Homo sapiens: one gene and its partners. The protein of the gene in region 3 interacts with the protein of the main gene of each other region in a biochemical or structural test. Each region holds a gene or a part of one and is shown on either strand. Other genes may lie near its edges.

Region 1 (8,005 bases), on a different chromosome or scaffold from region 3:
CACTTAAACTATTTCAAACTCGATGGAGAAGCCAGAAGAATCCCTTCCAGTTCTATAATTCAATGATTCTAGTAATTCACCTTGGTAATTTTGCAAGACAGGCTAGCCTCTGCTCAGATACCTTAAACTGCCTGAGATTTGGAAAGTTATTAAATGTTCACCAACTTATATTCAAAGGAATGCTGGTATATTCATTACACTATTATTATATTCAGTGCCTTCTATACCTGCATGAGACAAAATTTTGTGAGACACTGACTTGTTAATTACAGTTAAATAGACGTCATAAACAGTTTATACGTTCTCATTTTGGAATATTTTTTCTGTTACTACCTTATTACAACGGTTGTTACAGAAAAAAAAAAAACATACAAAGCAGCTTACCAAAAATATACAACAAGATTTAGCACAAATTTCCTAATAATCAGCCATGAGTTACTTTTTCCATGATTAAGGGAAGGCCCCTCATCTTCTAAGTTAAAATTTTAAGCAAAACACTTGTGCAAGATCACACACATTTTTGTGATTTCCCATTCAAATTTCAGTATATTTGTTTCTTATTAAAATACGGGCAAACTTTCCTTTAAAAATGTACGTATTTGTTGAATACTTTGTGAAAAGAGCTGTTCAGCTATTAATTTGAATTTTTTACCGGCCAAATGTATACTCTATGGCTTAGTAGTTAAGGTGAAATAATTTTTTTAATGCTATTACATTAAAAACACTCTTGGCTGGGTGCGGTGGCTTACGCCTGTAATCCCAGCAGTTTGGGAGGCTGAGGCGGGCGGATCACAAGGTCAGGAGATTGAGACCATCCTGGCTAATACAGCGAAACCCCGTCTCTACTAAAAATACAAAAAATTAGCCGGGCGTGGTGGCACACGCCTGTAATTCCAGCTACTCGGGAGACTGAGGTAGGAGATCGCTTGAACCCAGGAGGCGAGGTTGCAGTGAGCCGAGATCGCGCCACTGCACTCCAGCCTGGGCGACAGAGCAAGACAACGTCTCAAAAAACAACAACAACAACAACAAAAAACACTCATATCCATCCTAGAGAAGCGTGAAAATGTAAAAGTTCTTGTTCAAAATTCTTGTCAGGTGGGGCGCGGTGGCTCACGCCTGTAATCCCAGCACTCTGGGAGACGGAGGCAGGTGGATCACCTGAGGTCAGGAGTTCGAGAGCCAGCCTGGCCAACACGGCGAAACCCGTCTCTACTAAAAAATACAAAATTAGCTGGGCTGGTGGCGCGGGCCTGTAATCCCAGCTACGTGGGAGGCTAAGGCAGGAGAATCGCTCGAACCTGGGAGACGGAGGTTGCAGTGAGCCGAGATCGCGCCACTCCCCTCCAGCCTGGGAGACAGAGCGAGATCTTGTCTTAAAATAACAACATTTTTGTCAAAAAAATCTGCAAGTTAAGTTCTTTCATGGTGATCCTCGCAAAATAGCATTTCTCATCCAAAGGCCTCAGAACAGCCGCCAGCCGCCGAGCTAACTCGGGACCCTGTTACCGGCTGCTTGGCGCCCTGGTCGGGTGGGTTTTACCTTCTTCAGGGTCCATTCCTCGCCTCGCCCCCCGTTCCCAACCCTCGGGACACTGGAGACTTGCATTTCACAAACGGGTTTGCTCCAGGCCGCACTCCATCCCCGAGGGAAAGCTCCCCAGAAGTTCTGGAGTTGGGCTGAAGGATGTGATGGCAAGATGTGAATGATGTCAGAATCCCCATCTCCAGAGTCCGGCTGGGGAGCTAAGCGCAGGTGAGCTTACATCAGAAGAGAAAGCCAAACCCCCCACACGTCGCTAAACTAGGGCACGGGAATGGCGTGTTATGCAACGGCCGCCGTTCGCGTGGCCACGAAAGCGCTCCTGCGCCTCGGGCCGCGTCCCGCCAAGACCGTGAGCAAACTCGCAGAGTTGGCGCGGCAGCCGGCCGGGAGACGCCGAGCAGGGCCTGGCCGCCCGCAGCCCGGGAGGAACGGCGCCCCCAGGGTCCGGTGGCCTCTGAGGGGCTGACTGGCCCGTGAGCCGGCGGCGCGGCCGCGGGGAACGGGGTGGGAACCGCGCGGCAGTGGGTGAGGCGGCGCAGCCACCGGGGGCTGAGGGGCGGCGCGGCCTCGACTGCGGCACCGCCGTGGGTCCGTCGGCTCGCGGGACGACGGGGCGGCCGGCGGGGGCCAACAGGGCGGGCTCTGAAGGACTGATTGGCCCGTGGGACGATGGCGCGGCCGGGAGGATGGCCCCGGATCCGTGGGACCGCTGCGCCGCCGGACCGGGGGTCCCGAGGCTGTCAGGGGCGCCCGGCCGGGCGTCTAGTGAAAAGCCGATCCCCCGGAGACAGCGGAAGCAGAGGCGCGCCCGGCGCTACGGCCTTTCGGGTCTAGGACACCGCCCCCGGCCCGCGCCGCCCCTGCCCCGCCGGGATCCCGGCCGCCCCGGTCGCCGCACAACAAAGCGGCGCAGCCCCGCTGCCCCCGCCCGACGCCGGCCTCCAACTTCCCCGGCTCCTCTGGAACCGGCTCCGCGGGCTCCGTACGGCCTGGACTACGAGCCGCCGGGCGGGGGCGGCTCCGGGCGGGCGCGGACCGTGGGGGCAGGGCGCAGGGCTCCGTCCGGACAAACTTCCTCGGCCGCCCCGCCGGGCGCCCTTCCCGGAGCCTCGGCACCACAGTAGGTGCGCGGAGCCGCAGGGCTCGACCGCTTCGCGGAAACTCTCGCCACCCTCCGAGCTGCCGCCCCGACCCCAGCTCCCAGCCCCCTCACCTCCAGGGGCGCGGTCTACACCCTCGGGGGCGTCCTGGCCGGCGGCTCCCGGGCCTCTCGCGCCGGGAGACCGGGCACTGGTGGCTGGAGCTGCTGCTGGCCCCGCAGGGACGGGGGAGCCCCGGGCGGCGGCGGTGGCGTGGACGGCGACTGCTCCATCTTCCCGGGGCGCTCACGCCGCGGTTCCAAAGCGCAGACCCAAGTGGGACATTCGCTACATTGTTGGCATTCCACGGGCGTCACGTGACCCCGCCTCCCGCGTCACTCTCGGCCGCATACCAGTCCGGGCGGGGCGCCTGCGGCCCCTGCTCCTCCGCGGCCGCTCCGCCCAGCCCCGCCCGGCCGTGCTTCCTGCCTCCGGCCTCGACCGCCACCTGCCCACGGCCTCCCTGCTGGCCTGCGGTAGCTCGCCAGGGCCTCTCGGACCTATTTGACTGGCTGCTATCTGCCCCCAAACTTGAGTATTTGCCCTCTCGACTGCATTTGTATTAAAAGTTGGTAACTGTCGTTAAAGCCACTATTCTTAAGTATCTCATACCAGTCTTGGTGAAAGAAAAAAAAAAGTTAGCAGGCCTGAAGGAGCCACCAAGTTACCAACTAGTGGCTGGACACTAAAAATAGGGGCAGAAAAGGACAGACGGCTATTGGGACAGTGGAATCAAACAATTAAGAAGGACGTTTGCCAGAAGCGGTGGCTCACGCCTGTAATCCCAGCACTTTGAGAGGTCTAGGCGGGTGGATCACCTGAGGTCGGGAGTTCGAGACCAGCCTGACCAACTTGGAGAAACCCCCGTCTCTATTAAAAATACAAAATTAGCCAGGCGTGGTGGCTCATGCCTGTAATCCCAGCTCTTCGGGAGGCTGAGGCAAGAGAATCACTGGAACCCGGGAGGCGGAGGTTGCGGTGACCTGAGATCGCATCATTGCACTCCAGCCTAGGCAAGAAGAGCAAAACTCCGTCTCAAAAAAAAAAAAAAAAGAACGTCTGATGCACACCCAAATTTAACCTGATTTAATTTAATCAACCTCCCCTCCCCATGTATATTTTCTTTCTGAGAAGTATTTTATGGTGTAGGGAATAGTATAGTACCGTATATACCAGCAAGTGAGGTCGTGGGTTTTGAACAGCTTCACTATCCATTTGAGGACTGTGGATCTGGTACAGGGACAGAAGCAGGGATGGTGCAAAGATTCACAGTAGAAATAATAGACTGGAAGCCAAATCCTCAGTCTACTTCTGGCTCTCCTAACATCATACTTCCTACCACCTATATCTGTGGCAAGTGATGCTGAGGGTCAATATAGTGTTTAAAGTCAACTCGATTTCCTCTTTAATTGACAAACTCTTGTGAAATTTTTAAATTTTACTCTCATGGGAAACAGTAGTAAAGGTCATTATCTGTGCACTATTTTGACAGTCTCACCCAGCCTTCAGTCCCTGGTTCATCCTCCTCCCCTCCCTCTCTTTCAATCTCTTAAGGCCTCAGCTCTTCCAGGGAATCTTCTCAGATCTCTGTTTTCTCTCTTCTTTGGGCTCTGATAATCAAACCGTAATCCCTTCCTGCCAGCAGAAGTGTGCAAAAAAAAAAAAAAGAAACCATCATCGTGCAGCTTAGAATTCAATTTAATTTTTCGATAGTATCCTGTATGCTACCCAGATATCTTGCACAGTACTGGGAGCAAAATAAGTCTCCAGCCAATATTCTGCAATTGAGCCCTACTGGCATTACCTATGTACTTTTCCACATTTTTTCCTTTTTTTCTTAGAGACAGAGTCTCACTCCATTGCCCACGCTGGAGTGCAGTGGCACAATCATAACTTACTGCAGCCCACATCAGCCTTGAACTCCTGAGCTCAAGCCATCCTCCTGCCTCAGCCTCTAGGGTAGCTGGGAACACAGGCGCACACCACCATGCTTGGCCTTCTTTTCACTCTTAAGCTGACTATACTTTCTCCACCCCAACCCCAAGCCACATGGCTGCTAATCTTTTTTTGTTGTGTGTTTAAAGATCCTGCTCCTGCTCTGCCTTCAAAGATGTAAAAATAATTTTTAAAACACTTGTGGAATGAAAAATATTATAAAATAGATTTAATGGACCTTAAAATTTGTGCATAAAATACCTAATAAAAATGTTGCAGTTACAATGATCATTTCAGCATTGTTTGCAGTAGTGAAAAATTGAGAAAAACCCCAAATGTCCAGTCAAGGGGTAGGAAAATGAAAGGTAGATATCCAAATGATGGAATATACACAGTAGCTAAGTTAATGAACTAGCTCTGTAGTTGTAAAGGATAAATGATGGTAGAAAGAATTCAAAAGCACTGTGGAGTGAAAAAAAGCAAGTTGCAGAACTATATATATACACTGTGATACCATATTTATAAATAATCAAAATCCCACAGAACCTAAAATGATCACATACTTTATATAAGTATAGACATAGAATGCAATATCACACACACCAAATTCATGACAGCTGTTGTTTATATTAGAGGGAAGGAGGGAAATTGAGCAGAGAAAAAAAATGAAGACTTCAACTTTACAATGCTTTCTTTTATTTAAAAAACGGAAATAAAACTCAAAATCTTAAAAGTTGTTGGTTCTGGGAGGTTGGGTTCAATAATGTGTGCTATACTATTCTTTGTGCCTTTTTTAAAAAACATTAAAAATTTTAAATTTTATATATATATATGAATACAGACAAATTGGAAACAAGTTTCCAAGATAGGGGCTTGGTTGGGAAAGCTGACACGCTCACATGGAAGAATGTTGTGATTAACGATTTGTGTTTATTAACATGCAGTCATTCATTCCTTCTCATTTTTGTTTGTTGTTGTATGTTTGGGTTTTTGTTTTGTTTTCTGTTTTGTTATCGGTACCTGCTATGAACCATGTGCTAAAATTAAAAAACCCATGTTTGGGTTTTTGTTTTGTTTTGTTTCTGTTTTGTTTTGTTATTGGTACCTGCTATGAGCCATGTGCTAAAATAAATCATACTTGGGATAACATGGTAAGCAAAACCATAAGATTTATCCCCTGATGGGGTTTATAGTGTGGTAGAGGTAGAGGTGTTCAAGAAAAACACATGCTGGGCATGGTGGCTCATGCCTGTAATCCCAGCACTTTGGGAAGCTGAGATGGGTGGATCACTTGAGGCCAGGAGTTCGAGACCAGCCTAGCCAACAGAGTAAGATCCCATCTCTACTAAAAACAAAAAAAAGAAAGGAAAAACAGCAACAATATAAGTTTATTTTATATGTATATACAATAAACTATGTACACATGTATATTTTTTAAACTATTTTTAAAGCCCAGAAAATTACACAGCCAAATGTTAAAAGTGGTAGTCTCTGGATGTAGTGTAGTGATTCTGAATGGTTTTGTCTTATACTTCCTGATACTTCTATAGTAGGATAGTTAACATAATTTTTTTTCTTTTTTTCTTTTTCTTTTTTTTTTTTTGAGATGGAGTCTTGCTCTGTCGCCCAGGCTGGAATGCAATGGTGAGATATCAGCTCACTGCAACCTTGCAACCTCCATCTCCCGGGTTCAAGCAATTCTCCTGCCTCATCCTCTGGAGTAGCTGAGATTATAGGCATGCTCCACCATGCACGGCTAATTTTTGTATTTTTAGTAGAGATGGGGTTTCACCATGTTGGCCAGGCTGGTCTCGAAATCCTGACCTCAGGTGATCTGCCTGCCTTGGCCTCCCAAAGTGCTGGGATTACAGGCTTCAGCCACCATGCCTGGTCCAGAAAATGTTTTAAAGTTAATCAGTTAAATAAGCACATCTACATAATGTATCTAGCTGAGAAGAGGAGAAAAAGAGACAACACAAGACCAGCTGAGCATAGAGCGGACAGTAGTAACAAAATTGGAGTGTATAAATTAACTGACATAGTATATACATATGTGTATGTGTGTGTCCTTATTCTATACCAAGTATTGCTCTAAATTTGTATATTATATCATTTAATTCTCAAAACGACCATGTTATTCAACCCATTTTATAAAAAAGGATCCTGAAATGCAGACGGCTCAAGTAACTTGTCCAAGATCAAAGAGCAGAGATTCAGACCTTCATAGATCTAACTCCAGAGATTGGAAACACTGAATTATAATGCCCTCTCTAGATAATCTCAAGAAGTCATGAGGCTGGGCATGGTGGCTCACGCCTGTAATCCCAGCACTTTGGGAAGCTGAGGCTGGTGGATCATGAGGTCAGGAGTTCGGGACTAGCCTGGCCAAAATGGTGAAACCCTGTCTCTACTAAAAATACAAAAATTAGCTGGGCGTGGTGGCAGGCACCTGTAATCCCAGCTACTCGGGAGGCTGAGGTAGGAGAATTGCTTGAACCCAGAAGGTGGAGGTTGCAGTGAGTGGAGACCAAGCCACTGCACTCTAGCCTGGACAACAGAGCAAGACTTCATCTCAAAAAAAAAGTAAAAAAAAAGGCACATGATTACAACATACTCATAAGTAAGGAAACTGAAAACAAATTACTCCCTTATACTTCCTCTGAAAGGGGAATGGACTTTGTGGAGTGAGGAAGAGGGGAACTCAGAGACTTGTGTCTCCAGCCTCAACCAAAGCAGAGAACGATTCCAGGCCTAGCAGACACAGAGAATCCACTTGCTTGTGAGGCCTCTGCAGTTGTGAAGCCAGGATAGTGTAGGGGTTCTCTCCCTAAGGCTCCTATAGAATATCAACTATGGCTGGGTACGGTGGCTCACACCTGTAATCCCAGCACTTTGGGAGGCCGAGGCGGGCGGATCCCTTGAAGCCAGGAGTTCTAGACCAGCCTGGCCAACGTAGCGGAACCCTTTCTCTACTAAAAATACAAAAATTAACCAGGCATGGGGGTACATGCCTGTAATCCCAGCTACTCAGGAGACTGAGGCACGAGAATCGCTTGAGCCCAGGAAGTGGAGGTTGCAGTGAGCCGAAATGGCGCCACTGCACTCCAGCCTGGGCGACAGAGCCAGACTCTATCTCAAAATAAAATAAAATAAAATCTGCCTAACTACAGAAGAATGTTCTCTATGGGCAGTAGCATAAAAATAGAATAGGATCAGATCATGCAAGACCCAGACAACCGAGAAGAAAACGGAACATCGACTTGTTTCATTTGTTTTAGAGTCGTTTTATATCCATATACAGTAGTTTATGTCCTTAACTAAATTATGCATTCCTTAAGAACAGAGAAGATATTCTCCCCCAAAAACCATATGTAAAGAACATTTT
Region 2 (7,024 bases), on a different chromosome or scaffold from region 3:
TGTGCTCTGGGTTTGCTTTATTTGAAAAGAAAAGGGATGTGTGCAGAAAGGGAAAGCTCTAAAGGAAAATGAGCCAGCACAAGCAACCCTTTTGCCCCACTACCAGAAGCTGCCAGGTGTGACCATGGGTCTTGAGAGGCTGTCAACGCATAAAAGGTCTTGATCTTGAGTTAAACACACCAGTCTCCAAAGTGCCCAGATTGACCCCATTTCCATGCTAGGAGTATGCCACCAAGACAAAGGACTTTTAGACACACCTGACTGGACAAGAAGCCATAACCTTCCCCAGCCCAACAATGACCCGAGATGGGAAGAATGGCTGGTCCTACAGCCCCATGACATGCTCTTCGGAACGAGGCAGTCTTCTGGGGCCCTGGAGGCTGGTCTGGCTTCACAGGGTGGGTGCCTACTTTTAGACTCAAAGCATGCTGCGGCCAGTACCCAGGCACCACCTGCCCTCGTAAGGGCTCAGTGTGGCCCGAGGACAGAGACAGGCAAGCTCATGCACGGGTTAGTATCACAGAGGGCAGCACCATCACCACATAGAGAGTACCTGGGAACAACCTACTTTGAGGGCTCAAATGCAGATAGGTCTTCTGCCTTGGGCTTGAGGCTAAACCAGCAAAATAAAATGAAGAAAAACAAAAACATACCCTGTGATATCAACAATGCCATAAGTGCCATCTGCAAAATGCTTGGATAGGCCTGAAATCGTGATGAGTGATTTTGTTTGTTTTAATGGCTTGGAACGGGGTCTCTCCAGCTCTCACACTGCAGGTTTCTGTGGCTGAGGGCACTGCTCATTGCAGCAGCAGTGGAAATGGTGAGACTGTTCCTGGGACCCAGATGACAAGGCTGGGGGTAAGGGGTGAGATGGGGTGTCTGAGGCAGTTCATTTAAGGGCTGACTGGCTCACTGGCTCAGCCATCGTTTTACCTCTTTCCTTAATGACCGAGGCCTCCCTTGAACTCCCCTTTACTGTTTAATAATTTTGTTTTGGAAGGGAAGCCCAGTAAATTACAGAAGCCAGAGGAAAGAAGAATGTGGAATGTGGAAATGCCTTTCCTTCTAGGTTGCACTATTAAAAGGAATTCTCTACCCGGTGCCAGTTGTGACTGGAGTCGAGAGGTAGAAGTCAGGGCTGCCTACTGTACCCAACAACGAAGGCAGGCAGAAACAGATCCCCTGGAGTTTTCAGATACAGCTTAACCACTAAAAACAGAGACAGTCCATAAAACTGGAAGCCTATTTTAAAGACTGAGGTAAAGAATAAAAAATTAACTGTATCAGTATCACCTAAACTCAATGGACAGTCTTATCTTAATAACACCTATTTTATAGGTGTTAACCTGGTCCTGGGCTATCAGTTAAGAGCAGAGCATTATTTGGTATGAGAGGACCCTTCTGCTTGGCCCAAATGAGAGAGGTATGCTCTTGGGCTGATAATTAGTATGGAATTTAGCTTCTGAATCTCGACAATGCTGAAAGCTCAAAATACCAGTAGAGAAAGATATGAAACCATTTGCAAAGTAATAAAGTCTTCTCTTTTAAAACAAAGAGGTTCTTTCCTAGACACTTCCTTTTAAGTATGAAAAAAGTTAAAAATTCAGTTTGGTTTTATAGTCCTTGCCACTTAAAGACACCACAAGACTAGAGGGAAAGTCCATTCTCAATAGCCTCCATTTCATTCTGCTTTCTCATAAAGTAAGGCAGCTCCCTGGGTATAACACCCCTTGGCTTAAAAGGGCATTATGCTTTACTGCTAAATGAGGGCTCAAAATCCACCCTGTAACAGGGGTTCATTACATCAGAGCTTTTAACACAAGCTCAACTTCCATCCAGCCAATGGGTTCATAGTCATTGGCAGATTAAATTCCCTTTCTGGCATAAGTTAAAAAATTTCCTCAACTAAGTACATACAAAAGATGCCAATAGTCTAGTGACTTGGCTACTGAGGAAACCAGATGCCAACCGCACATTTCATTAATGATGGTCCTGATCAGCAAAATACAAGAAAGAGACCCTGGGTACCTTTTTAATGGTATTGTGCTTGCTGCTGCCACCCCTGTCGGAGTTCTCATTGTGCAGAATATCCAGAGCTGTCTCCCTCTCTTTCAGTTTCAAGGCCTCGATTTCTGTCTTGAGTTCATTGAGCTGCTCCTGCAGATGCTTGCTCTTTTCCATGTATTCCACTCTGCCGGCAAGAGGGTATCATGCATCAGGGCTTGGGCAGACAGTGAGACACGGCTCAGGTGCTCTGCGGCCCACAAGCTGCTTGGTGTGCGATCTAGGGTTTGAGGCCTGGGGTTCACGTCTCTACTTGGCCACTCACAGGCCATGGGAGCTTGGGCTGGTCACTTAAATGCTATGAATGTTTCCTCATCATTAAAATTGGGATAATGATCACAGGGCCGTGGTTAGGATTAAATAAAACAGTGTAGGAGGCCAGGCACGGTGGCTCCACCTGTAATCCCAGTACTTTGGGTGGCTGAGGCAGGAGGATTGCTTGAGCCCAGGAGTTGGAGACCAGCTTGGGAAACATAGCAAGACCCTGTCTCTATTTTTAAAAAAAAAAAAAGAAAAGGAAAGAAAAAGAAAGAGTAGAAAAGCCCTTGGTAAATTCTCATAGGGGGCTCTACAAATACCAGCTCTCATGGACAGCTTTTCGTTCTGTACAAAAAAAAAACATACGTGAAACAAGCTTCCTGGGAACCCAGAACAATCTCCTTGTCTCAACCCTTCTTGGAGCAGTAATTCAAGTAAACTCTTTTTTTTTTTTATAGGATCTTGCTATGCTGCCCAGGCTGGCTTTGAACCCCTGGTCTCAAAGGGCTGGGATTATAGGCATAAGCCACAGCGCCCAGCTTCACGTGATCTCTTTTGATAGGCCACATCCACATTCCCACTTGTTCTGAGACTTCATCTAAAGATGACAGAAGCTCACTCAGAAGCTCACCCAACGCAAGGAAGAAAAGATCCCCACCCTCACCTGAGAACAGATAACACTGAGTGACAGCATCTATGATGGTGAAAATCTGGAAACCACCCACAAAGTGTCCAACTACAAGGCATGGCCAGAAAAACCATGCAATACAAATACCAAAAACACTCCATAGGGATTGCCATGGTTAGTATAGAGACTCTGCCAATATGTGCAAGGGTAAGAAGTGCTATGGTCTGAATGTTCGTGTCTTCAAAATTCATATGTGGAAACCTAATCACCGGCTGGGTGTGGTGGCTCACGCCTGTAATCCCAACACTTTGGGAGGCCAAGGTGGGCGGATCATGAGGTCAGGAGTTCGAGACCAGCCTGACCAACATGGTGAAACCCCATCTCTACTAAAAATACAAAAGTTAGCTGGGCGTGATAGCATGCGCCTGTAATCCCAGCTACTCAGGAGGCTGAGGCAGGAGAATCGCTTGCACCCAGGAGGTGGAGGTTACAGTGAGCCGAGATCGCACCACTGCACTCCAGCCTGGGCGATGGAGTGAGACTCCATCTCAAAAAAAAAAAAAGTGTCAGGAGGTGGGGCCTTTGGGCAGTCATGAGGGTAGAGCCTCATGAATGGGATTAGTGCCCTTATAAAAGAGACTCCAGAGAGACCCCTCATCCCTTCCACTGGGTGAGCATGCAGCAAAAAGGGGCTGATTATGAACCAGCAAGAATGCCCTCACTAGACTCCACCTCTGCCCGTGCCTTGATCTTGGCCTTCTCAGCCTCCCAAACTGTGAGAAATCAATTTCTTTCTTTTCTTTTTTTTTTTTTTGAGACAGGGTGTCTCTCTGTTGCCCAGGCTGGAGTGCAGTGGTGCAATCTGGGCTCACTGCAACCTCTGCCTCCCAGGCTCAAGCAATCCTCCCACCTCAGCCTCCCGAGTAGCTGGGACCACAGGCATGTGCCACCACACCCAGCTAATTTTTGTATTCTTAGTAGAAATGGGGTTTTGCCATGTTGCCCAGGCTGGTCTTGAACTCCTGGCTCAAGAGATCTGCCCCCCTTGGACTCCCAAAGTGCTGGAATTACAGGCATGAGCCACTGTGCCTGGCCAAGAAATAAATTTCTGTTGTTTATAAGCTACCCAGCCTCTGGTATTTTGTTACAGTAGCCAAAACAAACTAAGATAGTAACAAAATACAAACTATAAAATAGCAGACACAGAACAGCTTCACCCTGATCCCGGATCCCAACCACATAAATGTATATGTCTGGATAATGGTGAAAGGAACATGGACAGCAGATATGACAGCTAGAGGCTCTGGTTCATTGGCTACTTAGCTATACCCTCAGTGTGAGAGCCCAAAGAAAAACAGCCTGGGTTCTGGTTGCCCATACTGGACTCCATGGAGACACTTTCCCCAAAGGGTTTTCCTGAGGATACCACCCATGGTAAAAGCACATGGGCTGCAGAGTCAGATGGGTGAGGGGTTTCAACCCCTCTGCATCAGCTGTGGGATGCTGGTGGAGTTCACTAAACTCTCTAAATCTGAGTTCTCACTTATAAAATGGGAACATGAAAACCTACCTTTGATGTCATTTTGATGTTTGTAAGTTAGCAGGAATTAAATGAGACAAAAGCCAAAACCCCTGACACACAGGCACTCAATGCATGGTAGCTACTGTGGTTGTCCTCTAGCAAGCAGCAGCAGTTAACCAACTTACCGCTAGCTCTGGGAACTAGGGGCCCTCGCTTAGATTTCCTCTGCAGTGGGGATCCTTTCCTTTCCATCTCTGATCCACTTCTACCCACAATAAAGGGAAGACGGAGGGCAGCTCAGCAATTGCTGCCATGATCAGGCCATGCTGGGGCCCTGCCCAGTGCCACCCACTGCAGCAAAGTGGCCCCACCAGCTGTCAGCTTTCCTTAGCCTCGAGCCTGAGTCTCTTCTCTCACCTTTGTTTGTTCTAGACATGGGAACCACCACAGATCCCAGTTGCTGGAGAACACAACTAGGAGGTGACTACAGTCCAGTAGTATAACAGCAGTTGAACTGACTCAGAGATGCTAACAACCCAGTCCTACACTTTAGGTGAGGCTTAGAGCCACCAAAAACTCCAGCTCACCAGTCAAGTGTTATTTTTATCCTGGATAAAAATTGTTATTTTTATTCGTTCAGAATGAATGCTGATCTGTTGTCCTTAATTTCTGATTAAGGAAATTCTTCCTCCAGGGTGTAAGAGCAGAGCAAACCTTTGCAGGAGTAATGACAGGCTGCTGCAGCGACCTCTCACCTCTGCCCCAGCTTCCCAAGGCCCCAATCACTCAGTCTAGTTCACAGCTGCCCACAGCAGGGCACAGGGGGCTACATACTTTTCTTTCTCTATCTCCATGGAAAGCCGCTTCATGTCAGTATCTTTGAAGTCGAAAGACAGGCTGTCACCAATGAGGTTGAAGCTTGGTATGTCAGGAGGCAACGGTGCTGGAATTGGGTTCATGGGCTGTTAATGAGAAATTTCGGATTAGGAGCTTGGGTCATACAAGCACAGAAGGACACTACTGTGTTGACAACCGATCCTCCAGCAGCCACAGAGGCAATGGGCACAACTCGGGTCCCACCTCCCAATGCCACCACGAGTCCCCATCCCTCCACTTCACTCCCTCCACATTTGCCACTGCCAGGTAAACAATATCAAAGACTACAAATCCAGGAAAATCATCCCTCAAATCTCTAACCGTTCTTCATGCTCAGCTGAATCAAACACAAACTCCCACTCGCTTTTTCATTTAGGAAACTCCCAGGCCCTGTGCAAGGGGCTGGAGATGCAGAAAACAAGACAGCATCCTTGGCTTTGAGCAGCTGAAAGTCTTGTTCAGGAAATAGATGTGTTCACAGATCATCACTGTTAAAAAAGGTAAACACTGTAGCCAGGGAGCGAACAGAGGCTAGAAGAGATGCTGCTTTTGCTGGGATCCAAGGCAGTGCCAGGAGAAGGTCTGCCGGACGGGAAGTATGGCAATGGGTGGGGCAGTGCCCAGTGAGGGTGCCAGGAGTCTGCCATGCAGTGTGGAGAGGTGGGGTGGGAGATGGGCACCACCACAAAGGGCTCCCCACCGGCCCACCGAGGGGCTTGGGCTTGGACAATGGAACCGGAGTAGGGCCTGAAGCAGGGGTGGTGTAGTTTTTTTTTTTTTTGGACTTTCATCCCAGCACAAAGGGTCATCTAAAGAGGACCCCAATCTAGCTTCCCGGCTTCTCCTACTATTTGCCCTACTAAGTCACAGACAGTATTGTTTATTATCCCCTGGACTACTGCCTTCCCATCTCTGTACCCCTGCCTATCCCATTTCTCCTCCCTATGCTCCATCCCTCTTTCAAGGCCCTTCTCAAACACCACGATCTCTCACCAAAGCCTTTCTAGCCCCTCCCAGCCAGCCGGCAACCCTTTTCTTTGCTGTCCCTTAACGCTGTGTTTACGGTTCTCTAATGGTTCTTCTGCGATTCCACCCTGTAAAAGATTTCTTTTTGGCTGTATCTTCTTTCTACTATTTGCAAGTTTCCTGCAAACAATCTGCCTCTTTTTCATCCTTGGATCCCGTATTGAGTCTAGGACAGTGTCTGGGAAAGAGCAGAGGCTTGGAACATTCATTTGAGACATTCTCAAGGCCTGAGGCAGACCGTCTGCAAGGGTGCTGAGAGAAGGCTCCTTGGGTGCCAGGGATGTCCTGTTTTCTGATCTGGGTGCTGGGTACATGGGTATGTTCAGTTTGTGAAAATTCTTCAAACTGTACAGTTGTAATTTGGGCACTTCTCTATGTGTATGTTACACATCATAAAAATTTTCAGCAAAAACGCGTACTAGTTGCTGCACCACTAGTGAGAGCATGAACTGGTATGACTTCTTTGGAGAGTATCAAAATCGAAAATTTGACCCCACAGTTCTATTATAAGAATTTATTCTACCAATATATCCACGTGTGTGTGTCAAGATTTGTGTTCAGGGATGTTCAGTGTCATTTTGTTCAAAATTGCAAAAGAAAACAGACTAAATACTCATCCATGAGGGACTGGTTAAATAAATTACAAT
Region 3 (7,024 bases):
ACAAATAAAGCCTCTGTCGGGTAAACACCAAAGCATTTTCCACACGGTACTGCATTTTAAAATAGCTAACTTTATTGTCAGTGAAAAGATAGGCACAAAGTGGATTTAAACCTGCTTAACTTTATTGGAACTAGCTCAGTTGATTACAGAATGGGGTCACAATCATTAGGGGACCACATACATTTTAAACCAAAGGCGATTCTTCTCTAGCCATCTGCCAACCCCAGCTATCCATTTTACAAACACATGCCATTAATCACAAGGGAGGCCAGAAGGAGGTTTCATGGCTCCATGTAACCCATCGTTGCTACTGGAAAAAAATAAACAAACTCCCGACACTTGTCCTACTGATGATGGATGGCACTTGGAAGACATATTTCCAAGAATCGTGGCAGGCTGAAATTGGTGGCAATTAGCCCACAGCTGATACCTTCCTTTGAAAACATTTTCAGTAAGAATGCACACGTTTTAAGTAACATATTCCATATGCACATAAGCAATTGAGATAATAGGAGACTGTGTAGCTAACAGATATGAGAATATAATTGATCAAAGTTAGTGCATATGTATACACTTTAAGCTGCCGCATTATGAGGGTTTAGGCTTGTCATAAAAAGTAGTTTGCACAATCAATCAGTTTGTTCATTTTCCAATTGTTATACCCACCCAACAGTGTAACAACAAAAAGAGAACATGATGGGTCTCTGGGTATCTTTCCTATGGCAGATGATGGCAGATATTTTAGGTTCCTGCTGTCCTATTACCTTGAAGCTCAAAAGCAGCATTAAAAGGAAATCCTTCATTAAATCAACAATCAAGATACATGATTTTAAAAGAAAGCTCAAGCTACTTTTTATTTCAAAAAAAGACTGTTAATAGGAGTTTCATATCAAGTAAAGTTTGTTCTAATGAAGTTTTTCTATACATGGAACACTGGGGTACAACTGAATTAGAAGGTCCTCAGAGATCACCAAGCAGTACAAGCTAAGACAACCTGGTCACCCTCCTTTCCTGAGGTGCCGGTAAAATGCACAGATAGGTAGGAGTCCAGAAAGATCCCCCAAATGTTATATCCACACAACTGTGAAAAGGTGGCTAATTGAGATTTCTCCCATAAACTTGAATTTTTGGAACAAAAACTAGTGGAGATCTTCTGAAAAGGCTGTATCTATCTTCTGCATAATATACTGACATACTCTTCTTCCCTCTCTTGGATGTACAATGTTATTTTAGCAAATTATCGGGGATTGGAAACTGAACAGAGAAGAACTGTCTCTGGTGTGAGAGGGTTCTGGAAAGTTCAAAATAGTACTCAGCCAAGAACTTCTTCCTTTCCCCAAAACACATGAGTCTAAAGAGATGGCTACCACACAATGTGGAATGTATGACATTTGTCACCTTGCAGAATGTGATTAAAATCATGGCTCCCAGAGCCAGCAAAAAGTCTGCCAATGTGTTATAACCATGAAAGGAGTAGGTGAAAAGTGTTTTTTAAATTATTTGGATAGAAAGTAGCTCTCCTGAAGTTTGCTACTTGCTGCTTCTACTATTTGAGTGTTTTTTTCTCCTTATGACTAAAGGGTAGTATGAAAGAGTCTTAACACAACTGCACTTTTAATTTCTATCTGAGATTCACTTTATAACTGAGGACTAATGTGTATGTAACATGATTACCTCATTATTGAAAATGTGAAAGGACTAGCTGAAAATCACATCACCCTCCTTTATGTCTCTACACACACACAGGCACACACACAAAATAATTCCTTTGGAAGATAATTAGGAAGGATACCATTCCTATACTCACAGAGGAACCCCAAAAGATTATCTAAGATACCCAATCTCCTAGAAAGAAGTGGGATTGGTTTCTCAGGGGGACATTTATGTGACTCTATGTTGAAATGCAGATCAGAAAAGGGAAAACCTTTTAAAAGGCACTGAAGGAGAGGCAAGACAGAAATTCAGTAGTTTGTCAAGACTGGACAAGCTACTCCAACCAGGTACATTTTACAAGATACATATTCCCTGGACCATGAAGATGCCTTTTCATAAAATGGAATTTAAAAAAGATAAAGAGTTTCCCAAAATAAGCATGGTGATTGGCATAATGGTTAGCTGTGTTGTATGACTTTCAAAAAGTCACTGAACCTCTCCAGTTCTCAGATTCCTCATCACTAAAATGAGGAGGTAGGGCTATATTGCTAAAGTTCTTTCCCACCACTATGGCTCATGATGTAATATATCAGGCCTACTCTTCTATTAATCTGGTTTCTAACTAAGACATCCCAAAACCTCTACCCCCAACCCTTACCTAACACCCCCCACTTCCCTCACCCTCCCTATACCCCTTAAAACTGATCTTAATGATGCTATCTGCAGATTTCTCACCTTAATGAAGGGCAGACAGGTGACACAGGGCAGGGACCTGTGGCAACTGGCATCCTTCTGTGTCCTTGGAGGCAGCCCTATGGCAAGGCTTGGAGCCATTGCCTCCTTTGATCTCTACCCACATGCACATTTCCTGCTGCTTCCCAAAGGTATTCCAAGATGGTGTCACTGACAGTGAGAAGAGGTAGTTGAGGATACTGCTGCAATCCACCTCTCCCCCGACTGCAGCATAGTACTTTGGGTTTCTCAAGCTATTCCCTTGGAGGTGATAGTCAAAAATGCCTTTTAAGACATATGCTTAGAATTTGACAAACAAAACAAGTTATTTCAAAGTAGTCACCAGAAATTCAAAGCATTCAACCTGTCAACAAAGATCCTTCCTCACTTTGCAAATGATTGGCAATTTGAGACTGGAGACCCAGCCAGTGAATCTGTGCTGTAGAAGAAATAAACACTAAGCTGATTGGTCTTACTAAATGCAAGCAAGCTGTGTTCATGGCTACACACAAACCATGGAAGTCTGCATATAGCACCCCATGCAACTCTCCATCAAGGCCTCTGATGGTCTAATTCCCTAAGAGAGAGGAAGTTGCGCATCACTCAGTTAATGTACTCTCCCAGCATCTGAAAGCAATATATTAATTATCCAAATGCATAAATTACTCCAGAGCATATATATGAATGTATGAACCTCCAGGAGGGAACCAAAAGAATCCATTTCCAAAGCACCACTGAAATGAAGACAAACACAATTCCCTGGGGCAGGGTAGCTGGGAAACTGGAAGAAAAAATTAGCTCCAGTACCCTTCTGCACCCCAAAACTCCCTACCTTTTTTCCAGCTTACATAGCTCCTGAAACTATTCCCTTTTGTAAGCCTGAGGTGAGTGCTTTCTCCAGCTGCTGCACAGGATAGTAACTATACAAAACAGCACACACTCAATTCTCTCTAGCTTCCCACTTCCAAACTACGTGTTATACACTGTCTTCCACACATACTGTGCTCTTCAATAAAAAATGATCTAGAATATGGAAAATTTAAACAAATTTAAGCACATTGAAAACGTCGATGTATAGCCACCTGTTAACAGTCCCAGTATTCGTATAAATTCAAACAATAAGCTTTAGAGCACATTCTGATTAATCTGTCTTTAGAGGTACTCCCTAAGCATACCAAAATAGACTGGTGTTCACATGGTATTACTCAAGTAGTACATTGTTCCAATAAAAAGTCCTGTTAAAAAACATCCCCTCCCCACAACCCTTGTCCTCACCCTCAAAACAAGAACCAATAAAAGGGGGAAAATGATTAAAAGCATTTTTGCTGATAATCTGCAGCTCTTGATTTGGCCGTTTAGATGAGATATTCCACCATCTCTGCATCAGGCTCTTGTCCCAGGATCTGAATGGGAGTTTTTCTTTCCAGAGTATTGGAGTGGAACACAGGCCCATCTAAATGGAAATAAGGGTTAGAAAACACTTAGGGATGAAGAAAAAACCCATATTTCTAGAACCAGACACCATCAGAGCCCTCATGAAGCCAATGGCAAAGTGAGACTTGCCTGCCACCTCCCTCATTTACTTCTGCTAAGATAATGGCCTCTACTCATGCCTGTTCCCATCTTGGTGGATGAGAAGTCATTTACAGACTCTCTTCTCTCTCCTTTAGAACGTGAAAAACTCAGTCCAAATGATAACTCTGCCCAGACATCAGACAACAAGAAATAAATCTGTATTTGAGAGCAGAACTAAACCAAAACCTACCTGCTAAAGGGAATAATTACCTGTTTTGTCTGGATTGCAGGTCAAACTTGGTATAGACAAACGATGTGGTCCAGGACCGGTAGCTGGACTTGCAGGAACCTCAGCCTGAGCCACAGCTGGAGTTGGAGTTGGAGCTGGAGTTGGAGCCACAGCCGGAGCTGAAGTTGGTGCCTGAGTCTGAGCAGGAGCAGAAGCCTGAGCCGCTGCTGGAGCTGGAACCGGAACCAGAGCCGGAGCTGGAACTGGAGCCGGAGCAGCTGGAGCAACCTGAACAGCAGCAGCAGCAGCAGCAGAAGGAGCAACGGCAGCAGCTGAGGCAACAGAGGCAGCAGCTGGAATCTGACCAGCAGCAGCTGGAGAAACAGCAGCAGCAGTAGCAGCGGCAGTGGCTGGAGACGGGGCAGCAGCAGCAGCTGGAGCAGCAGCAGCAGCAACAGCAACTGGAGCAGCAGCTACCATGGTGGTGGTGATGGTGGCAGCAGTGGCAGTGATGGCGGCAGCAGTGGCGGCAGCAGCAACTGGAGCAGGAACAGAGATGGGAGCAACAGCTGCAGTTTTGTTCGATTCCGTCCCACGTTCAGTTTGGGTACTGCAGTCTCGGCTGCCTGTCTTGGAGTGAGCCGAGAGCAGGGGAGTCGAGGGTGGCACAGGCGAGGGTGTGGAAGGGACATATTCAGCACGGTAGTCTCCACCCAGGAGAATGCCTACAAATGAAAGAGGAACAGATGTTAGAAAACAATAGGTGATTCAAATCCAGACATCTAATTACCTGTTCTCCCATTCAAATTTCAGAAGAAATTTATTTATTTTTAAATAAGTAAATATTATTTAAATATTTAAAATATTATTATTTTTAAATATTAAATAATTTAGAATAGTCTAAGTTATTTATTTTTGCCTCCAGGGAACCCAGAAATCAGTGTGTGAGGCTCCTCCAACCATGGCTAAAAGTTTCCTACAGACTTCGAGGATCCCTTCTGGTCCTCATCCATCACCTGGCACAACATATTAAGCCTGTAAGTGACCTGGGTATCTGTTTTGATTTATTTTTCCAATGGTGATTGGGTTCCACCAAGTTGTCAGAATGCTCCTACTCGGCTCCACTTATAAACCATTACCACACGTTACCAGGGAGCAAGAAAGGATCTGGGGAAGAAGTCTGTTGACACAGATTGAGTGTGGTAATAATTGTGTGATCTGAGGTTCTCACCATGACCATAGTCCCCAAAATGCTTATTCTAACCAAAAGATATTACAAGTATCAGAGGACCAAGAAAGGAATTAACAGCAACAAAAAGGGTTAAAATAAAAATATATATAAGCTTCCTTCCTCGGGCTCTAAAAATGTGCCTCGTGGTATCCACAATATGTCTGGGGTTTTGATTAGAGGGGAGGGAATGGACAGGAACGGAATGAAAAAGTACATTCTGTTCTCATCTCACAACACTGTGGGAACAAAACCTGCTACCCAAACGATTTAGTGTAACTAAAACTCTGGGTTCTCCTATTATAGAGGAGGAAGGAACACAGAAATGCCGGAATTTTGACATTTGGAACGACACAAAGGCCACATGGGCTTTGGAGAAAGATAAAGGTGCCACATGGCAAAGGCCAAATCTGAGAATAGTTTAGAGGAAATTAGAGTTATCTTCCTTGACACCCAAATGAAACTCAAGATTCTTGTCCTCTAAGCCTTGGCCTCAATCGGTATTCTCACCGGGAGACTTCAAAGTGTGGAGGAGCTCCAGAATGTGGAACTAGGGTCTCAGGAGGAAAAAAAAACTCCAAAACCCTGGTACACCTTCCTCTCTAGAACCTGGACCATCATCCCTTTTCCTTAAGCATGGGTGCTTATCTCAGGGCTCTCTTTGAACACGTGACTATAATCTTCCTTATTTACTGTCATTACCTAGGCTCCCCTTCCAGCTCTTGTCGTCTCGCTTTTCTTCCATGATGGGGGAGCCAGTCAGGGTGGATGAGTGGGAGAGCAAGCCTGATCCAGCATTGGAAATGGACATCAGAGACTTCGCTGGCCGCATGCACGACAGCTGCTCTGTCTTGCTCGGCTCCTTCCGGGAACGCTGCTGGAGTACTTTGATCATGGCATCCTTCTCAATAATCTGGGCATGGAGGGTCTTAATCCTAGGAGCCAAAGGCAAAGAACATATAAAGACCTTGTTGTGGGCTGGGCGCGGTGGCTTACGCCTGTAATCCCAGCATTTTGGGAGGCCGAGGTGGGCGGATTGCAAAGTCAGGAGTTCGAGACCAGCCTGGCCAACATGGTGAAACCCTGTCTCTACTAAAAACACAAAAATTAGCTGGGTGTGGTGGCAGGCGCCTATAGTCCCAGCTACTCGGGAGGCCGAGGCAGGAGAATCACTTTAACTTGGGAGGCGGAGGTTGCAGTGAGCCAAGATAGTGCCACTGCACTCCAGCCTGGGTGACAGAGCAAGACTGACTCCATCTCAAAAAAAAAAAAAAAAAAAAAAAAACCTTCTTGCTACCTCCACATTTTGGTCTAATTGACTACATGACTACGTGGAGCTCCCATTATCTTTTCGACTAAAGGCTGATCTAGTTAGTTCTGAGTTGGAAAACAAGGGATGGTGTGCTACAGTTTTTAAAACATGTTTTTTCTTTTTTCTGCACACCCAAATGGATACAGCAGAGCATCCAGGAGCTGTTGCTTAAATCTTAGTAAGTCACAATAAAGTACCAGTGAAAAAAAAGGCTGAATATGAGAGAATGAACTGATGTACTAGGTGCTGTAGTGAAGAATCTCAGTCAATGGAAACAATTTACTCAGTGAGAAGATGAGATCTATGAATGAGCGACAACCTGCAGGTAGTAAGTAAATGATCATGTGTTTATAAA

What was found. Proteins that work in one complex are often made in the same cells at the same time.
Region 1: of the proteins of AMOT (region 3) and LATS2, one has a biochemical effect on the other in vitro, tested with the Homo sapiens proteins (3 studies listed by BioGRID).
Region 2: the proteins of AMOT (region 3) and NF2 form a complex in vitro, tested with the Homo sapiens proteins (2 studies listed by BioGRID and IntAct).

What each region holds. Positions count from the first base shown.
Region 1 is NC_000013.11:21,058,587-21,066,591, forward strand, and holds the start of LATS2 (serine/threonine-protein kinase LATS2), read right to left. Parts: upstream 3,001-8,005; 5' UTR 2,760-3,000; intron 1,820-2,759; exon of another isoform or gene 1,544-1,819; intron 1-1,543. UniProt on the Homo sapiens protein: Negative regulator of YAP1 in the Hippo signaling pathway that plays a pivotal role in organ size control and tumor suppression by restricting proliferation and promoting apoptosis.
Region 2 is NC_000022.11:29,676,609-29,683,632, reverse strand, and holds part of NF2 (merlin), read right to left. Parts: intron 5,438-7,024; coding exon 5,310-5,437; intron 2,195-5,309; coding exon 2,032-2,194; intron 614-2,031; coding exon of another isoform or gene 578-613; exon of another isoform or gene 1-577. UniProt on the Homo sapiens protein: Probable regulator of the Hippo/SWH (Sav/Wts/Hpo) signaling pathway, a signaling pathway that plays a pivotal role in tumor suppression by restricting proliferation and promoting apoptosis.
Region 3 is NC_000023.11:112,774,827-112,781,850, forward strand, and holds the end of AMOT (angiomotin), read right to left. Parts: intron 6,293-7,024; coding exon 6,060-6,292; intron 5,963-6,059; exon of another isoform or gene 5,892-5,962; intron 4,855-5,891; coding exon 4,171-4,854; intron 3,839-4,170; coding exon 3,741-3,838; 3' UTR 51-3,740; downstream 1-50.